Linked DNA regions of Homo sapiens: region 2 is reported to be linked to region 1. Evidence: microRNA targets listed by miRTarBase, many of them from high-throughput screens and not tested one by one. Region 1 holds a microRNA gene; the other region holds the end of a gene's coding sequence.

Region 1 (3,416 bases):
TCCCTACCAGTGGGTGCTCCTTTAGGCTGGTTCACCCGGTATCCAAGCCATTACAAGATGGGAGAGGGTGAAATGTAAACCCTAGCAGACCAAGCAGTAAAAAGATGAACGGCTTTGGAAATGACAGGGTGAGTGGGAGGAAAAAGTACAGAGAAAGAGGAGTTCCAAAGCAAAGTGACCACAGAATATATATTTCTCAAACTGCTTGAACTCCCAATAAAATGACTTGGAGCAGTGATGGAAGAAAGACTCCATCCCAGAGAACTGGGCAAGCACTCAGCGTCCTACATTTTTCATGCCAAAAATCTCGTTTTTACTATATTATTTCTTCCAAGAAGCCCTACCTTTAACTGAAAAAGGGATACAGAGGACACCTACTTTCTTCTACTTGGGGACTTTACTCGGTTGTGGAACAATGAACTAGACAGACACTACTTAGCTATGATCTTCATCCTTTTTCTTAGTGAGCAATTTTTGTACAGTCTGATTCAGCAAAACAGAAAACAAAACAATTCAAAGGACCCTGCTCTGGCATCCACTATCTCCGCACAGCCGGGCGCGTGGCGCACCGCAAGGCTCTCTGCACTTTCTTCCTCCCCACGCCTCTCCCTGTATTTGTTCTCAGAGCTCTCAAATGGTCAAATGAGCTTGCTCAAAACCAACTTACCACTATATCAAAATCTGTTCCTGTCTTTGTTGGAATAGGAGTTCAATCTTCCCCAGTACTGGCTGTACTTGAAACTTGCTCTCCACAATCAAAATTTGCCCAATTCCTGATTATCAGCCAGAAAGCTGCTTTATTTGCAACTAAAATATACCTTTAACTTTATATGGACAACCTAAAATTCTGGCTCTAGCTGTGTGTGAGGGGGGACATACAGAGGTGAGAACAGGCCTTCTTTGGTCCCACACCCTCCACCCTCCAATATCCTTACCTCTTGGGCAGGTGAGCGAAGGGGTCCTTGGCCTTGGGCTCAGCAGCCAGCGCCTGCTCACATTCATCCATCTCCTCCTCAGGAGCAGGGGCAGCCGCCTTTTTCTCCTCCTTCCGCTCAGCCTGGGGCTTCTGCTTCTCTTCCCGTGAACCCTTCTCTTTCCGTGGTGTGTCCTTTTTAGGTTGGGTCTCTGCAAACTTTTTAGCTGGTGCAGAGGAAGGCAGGAAAGTGAACGAATGTTCTGCCTCTTTCCACACCCCTCCAAAACCACACAGAGCAAGCAAGGTAACAGAGGAAACTGACGAATGGGACAAGTAAGGAACTTAGGCCCCAGACTGCTCATCAGTTCACTGTGTGTCCTCCAGCAACAACACACTCAGCAACAAATACTTTATATCGCAAATCTATATAGTAATACAAATTAGTCAGGGTATGAGTGTACACGAAACTGCACATAATATTAGCTACCACATTGACACCCTACATTCTGCAGGTCCCCATAACCCAAAAGCAAGACAGGAAATCAAGGGGTTGATGCAGAGCAAACCAGACCCTGATCCTGGCCATATGCCTCCCAGTCTCCTCAGACTCACCATCAAACTGGGCCATCTTCTCACACAGTTTCACTTCGCCCAAGACAGCCCGGAACTGGGGCTGGTTAATGCAGGTGAGGAACCAGCGGTTGGTATTGGGAAAGGCCTGGCGGAAAGAAGGCTCTAGAACCTGCCAGGACATAAGGGTGTAAACAAAGTCAGTGGAAAGGCCCTGAAGAGTTCTGTTCACAGCAAGAGTCCTTGCTCTACCTAAGTCCCAGTGCTCACCTTCTTTTCAAACCCTATAGACAATAGCTTCATACAACATCATCCTTCCCTGGATTACTTCCCATTTCTTCATTTTTTTCAATTTTTTTTTTTTTTGAGACAGAGTCTCACTCTATCGCTCAGGCTGGGGTGCAATGGCGTGATCTCAGCTCACTGCAGCCTCCATCTCCTGGGTTCAAGTGATTCTCGTGCCTCAGCCTCCCATGCCTTAGCCTTCTGAGTAGCTGGGACTACAGGTGCCTGCCACCACACCCAGCTAATTTTTGTACTTTTAGTAGAGATGGGGTTTCGCCCTGTTGGCCAGGCTGTTCTCGAACTCTGACCTCAAGTGATCCGCCCACCTCGGCCTCCCAAACTGCTGGGATCTCCGAGGCGGGCGGATCACGAGGTCAGGAGATCGAGACCATCCTGGCTAACACGGTGAACCCCCATCTCTCCTAAAAATAAAAAAATTAGCTGGGCGTGATGGCGGGCAGCTGTAGTCCCAGCTACTCGGGACGCTAAGGCAGGAGAATGGCGTGAACCCGGGAGGCGGAGCTTGCAGTGAGCGGAGATCGCGGCACTGCATTCCAGCCTGGGTGACAGAGTGACTCTGTCTCAAAAAAAAAAAAATTAGCTGGGCGTGGTGGCACGTGCCTGTAGTCCCAGCTACTCCAGAGGCTGAGGCAGGAGACTCACTTAAACCCAGGAGGTGGAGGTTGCAGTGAACCGAGATCACGCCACTGCACTCCAGCTTGGGTGACAGAGTGAGACTCTGTCTCAAAAAAAAAAAAAAAAAAAAAAAATTTTAATAGAGATGGGGTCTCACTATGTTGCCCAGGCTTATCTTGAACTCGCATGCTCAAGCAATCCTCCTGCCCTGGCCTCCTAAAGTGCTGGGATTACCCGTGAGCCACCACACCTGGCCTCCATTTCTTTTTCTAATCTTTTTTTTCAGTGTAGTCCAGTTTAATGGATGGATGCTTGGGTCCATCCTCCATTTAGGAGTAGGAGTAATAATTGTCTTGCTCCTTTACAAAACTATTTCAGATCTACTGTTTCCAATCTTTTAAATTTCAAACGTCGGCCAGGAGCGGTGGCTCACGCCTATAATCCCAGCACTTTGGGAGGCCGAGGCGGGCAGATAACCTGAGGTCAGGAGTTCGAGACCAGCCTGGCAAACATGGTGAAACCCCGCCTCTCCTAAAAATACAAAAATCAGCCAGGCATGGTTGCACATGCCCGTAATCCCAGCTACTCAGGAGGCTGAGGCAAGAGAATCACTTGAACCCGGGAGGCAGAAGTTGCAGTGAGCCGAGATCGCGCCATCGCACTCCAGCCTGGGGGACAAGAGCGAGACTTCGTCTCAAAAAAAAAAAAAGATTGAGACCCACAGAGGGCTATCGAGGACTTTTTTGCCAAATAAAATCTAAACACTATAGGTATTTACTATCTATATTGGCCATACTATACACACACGCACACACACACACACACCCCCCACACCCACCCATCCATCAAACTTCAGAAAGTAAAGAACATTCAAAGAAAATATTCAAACGCATTTAGAATAATGGACAGTCCTGGCTGGGTGTGGTGGCTCACCCCCGCAATCCCAGCACTTGGGAGGCCGAGGCGGGTGGATCACCTGAGGTCCTCAGGAGATCAAGACCAGTCTGAC
Region 2 (3,416 bases), not on the chromosome of region 1:
TCCACCTGTGTTTTTTTCCATCACTGCATATTTTTAAAGTTGAAGGCAGCTTATCATTTATCCTAAGAAGCCATTTCAGTTTGTATAATAGCCTTCTTCAGACAAATTATCATCTGGCTATTCTTACAGTTCATCACTTATTCCATCCAAAAGCATCTATATAACTTTTGACTTAGCATTATGTAGAGACAAATGTAGAACTAGCAGGAAAATTAATTCAAACACATGAACGCTATTCATCAGCTATGATTACAGTTTGGCTATGATTCACTATCAGAATGAACCGTGAGTTTTTCTTTTGAATATTTACAGATTCTTATTTAAGTAAGGTGCTTTGAAGACCTAAACACCTGAATAAAAATTCACCTGTTTGTAGGTTTTTAAAAACAACTATGTGGAAATAGAAAATGAATTATATTGCATAACACATACCTTTAGACTAGCTTGGGAGAAGTTATTTCATTTTCACAAAAACAGCTAACTACTGAAACTTAAAGAGATAAAGGGTTTAAGAAACTGCATAATTGATTTTAGTAATGATCACAACTCAAGTACTACCATGTAAAGTGTTAACTCCTGAGAACACTGGAAAGTTCTACTCAAAATATCTATCATCTAGCTCTATTCAGGGTAATAATAAATCATGATCTGATGCTACAACTAGGCATACAGCATACAGTGCATCATTTATTAAAAATCAGCACTCATTAAACTTTCAGGAGCAACATAACTAGGTCCTTAAACATTTAGAGAAATATGTATAATAAAAAATCCAAGTAAAATGAGATCTTCAAGTACACTACTGAACACCATCAAATGCCTGTCAGCCCAAAATACTGCATTTTAACCTGCTTCAACTGGTAAAGTTTTCACACAAAGGAGTACCTAGAAGTATAGTTTATATCATTTTGTTTCCTAAAATTGTAAAGATAAATATTTTACAACTACTGAAAATATTTTGTACTCACCTCTAACTAGTCAAGGGTAAATGGAGAAAACCTTGTATTACCTTGTACCATATGAAATTGCTGTTTTTGTAGGTCAAAATTAAAACAATGTATTTAAAAAAATAAGTTTTATTCAATCAAAATATGCATCAGGAGCATGAATAGTTTTCTTCCAACAGAATATTAAAGGTCTAACTTTTATAAAATTCATCATTTGTTAGGCTGTATAAATTGTTAACATCTTCCAGTTACTTCATCTCGATTGGGGAATGCATTGTTTCTTAGAAAAAGCTCCAAATGATAGACAGTAGTCCATGGAATAAAGGTCCAGTGACTAAAATGGACATGACAAAATTTCATAGCCCAAGTCACTTAACTTTGCTTTAGTAGCTTGTGACATGTGAGGTCGAGTCCTTGTCTGTGAAAGTGTAGGTTCTTGTGTGTTACCCAAAGGACATTGTTTTTAAATCACATTTTCATGCATAATTTAAATTTCTTGATAATATGCTGCTGCCGTCATTGTTTCACTTGGGTTTAAATAACAGTAATTATTTATCTCTTTCGTAGATCACCACACAATCTTCAGAATTTTTTTGGTTGCAATGATAATGGTGGCAACATATTAGGGAGCTTTACCAGCCTCCAATGATTGTATAAATTGCCATTAGCTGTCAAACAGCACACATTTTTTTTTTTTGGCCACAGGTTATAATCTGCTCCAAAAATGGATTTCTGCTGTTTTGAATCTTAATGAGCACAACTCCAACTGTCTCCATTCTTGATCATCCCTCAAGAGGGTACTCTCAGGTCCATTTTTATACTTTTCCCCAGTCAGAGCGGGAATTCCTTAAGTCTGCTGCAAGGCTTCAAATTGTTGTTTGCAAGTTAGATTTCACTTTGGCTCTTAATTGATCTTTGTTTAAAATGGATTTTGATCTCCCCTAGGGTTCATTTTTGAAATTCAGATCCCCAGAACAAGATTTTTCAAACCACCACTGAGTAGTTCTTTTACTAGCAGAGCCCTCTAAGGCCAAATGGATGTTTCTACCTTCCTCATCTGCAATATGTCCCAGTTCAAAATTATAAAAAAGTATTCACAATTCTTCTGTGGATACTATAGTATTTCTCTGGAAAACAATAAACAATAACAAGACAACTCAATATCAAAGAAAAGTAGGAGCATAATACTATCATAATTCTAAATAGCACAACTGGGAACGTACGTTATACCAACTTTACTAATTGCAGTCAATTTTCAACTGATCTAATATTAGCAATTTCATGTGGTACCATCCACAAGTTAATCAACAATACTTACTGAGAATTTACTATATGCTAAGATCTGTCTCGTATCTGTACAAACAGATATCCTGAAAACTCACTTGAAATATGAAATTCATTGATTCCAAAGACCCTAGTGGAGGAGGAATCTGGTGTCATACTATTATTTTTTTAATCCATAAAAATGTATGCTTTCCCCCATGTTACAGTTACATATATTATGTTGTGAAGACGTGTTAAGTGGATCCTTGATAAACTTTTTGAACTAAATCTTTAATATGGTACAACCAAAGTTCAGCACTGAAATACACGTTTTTCAATGATTCTAACTTTTAAAAGTTAAAACTTGCCTACATTTGTTATATATTATTTTGAAGTTTCAAGAGGCTTTTATGTTTGTGATAAATAACAACAACTAACATTTATTTATGTTTCTAAAGCACCCCCATATACATTATTCTCATTTAAGACAGCAAGCAAAGACAATAAAAAATTTGCTCTAGTGATGAAGTGATTAATAAAAACTAAGTAAATAATGTTTTTGTGTATGCATTTAAAAAAATAATGTAAAACATTAAAATCCTGTGTCAATGAACTTCTGCAATGCACAGGAAAATAAACCCACTTTAGTTAATGCCTTTGATTAAGCATCACTGCCCACTGCAGATGGACCAAAAGTTTCTCTAGTACGCATTAACTGGACATCTTTGTCAGCCATACAGGTATCACAGCCCCATACTGCAGATGCTTCTGCAGTTAAGAGGCCATAAGCTGTTTCAGTCATTCCAGTACAGATCCGATGAAACCATTTCTGACAAGAGGCCTCACATAAGATGGCATCCTGATCATCGTTCACCTCGTTTGTACAAATTCCACAAGGATACACTGGGTCAGAAGACGAATGGCCATGACGGTTTGGGTGAAGAGAGGATTTATTGCTTTTTTCTGTGGTGCAGGCATCTGCTGCACCTCTTGGTTGTCGTGGCTTATTCTGCGTCCCATTTGCAGGGTTATTGTTTGTGGCTTCAGTGCTACTTGAACGGCTGTTCTCCTGATTTACTGCATTGTTTCGATTAACATTTTTTAATTCAATATTACTCTGATTCACTGTGTCATCCATATTCAAGTGAGGTGGATGAGCAGAGGAATTTTGATTAGTGTTTTTGGTTGCTCCTTGAGTAAAGTCTT

The links. The annotated mature microRNA hsa-miR-6747-5p reads AGGGGUGUGGAAAGAGGCAGAACA and lies in region 1 at 1,173-1,196, opposite strand. An mRNA with a match to its seed (bases 2 to 7 or 8) in the 3' UTR can be bound and repressed. Matches are read on the target gene's strand: a 7mer-m8 pairs with bases 2 to 8, a 7mer-A1 pairs with bases 2 to 7 and ends in A, and an 8mer does both.
Region 2: miRTarBase lists PYGO1 as a target of hsa-miR-6747-5p. The part of its 3' UTR that is shown has no 7-base or 8-base seed match.

Annotation. Positions count from the first base shown.
Region 1 is chr11:62,565,871-62,569,286 of GRCh38, forward strand. MIR6747 (microRNA 6747) reads right to left here and starts at 1,201; the gene lies at 1,141-1,201. It overlaps EEF1G (eukaryotic translation elongation factor 1 gamma), which reads right to left. Exons shown (of 10, transcript NM_001404.5): 6 at 1,529-1,658; 7 at 936-1,140.
Region 2 is chr15:55,543,152-55,546,567 of GRCh38, forward strand. It overlaps PYGO1 (pygopus family PHD finger 1), which reads right to left. Exons shown (of 3, transcript NM_001367806.1): 3 at 1-3,416. The coding sequence ends at 2,872. Among named protein-coding and RNA genes, the nearest start is that of DNAAF4, 37 kb to the left of the region's middle.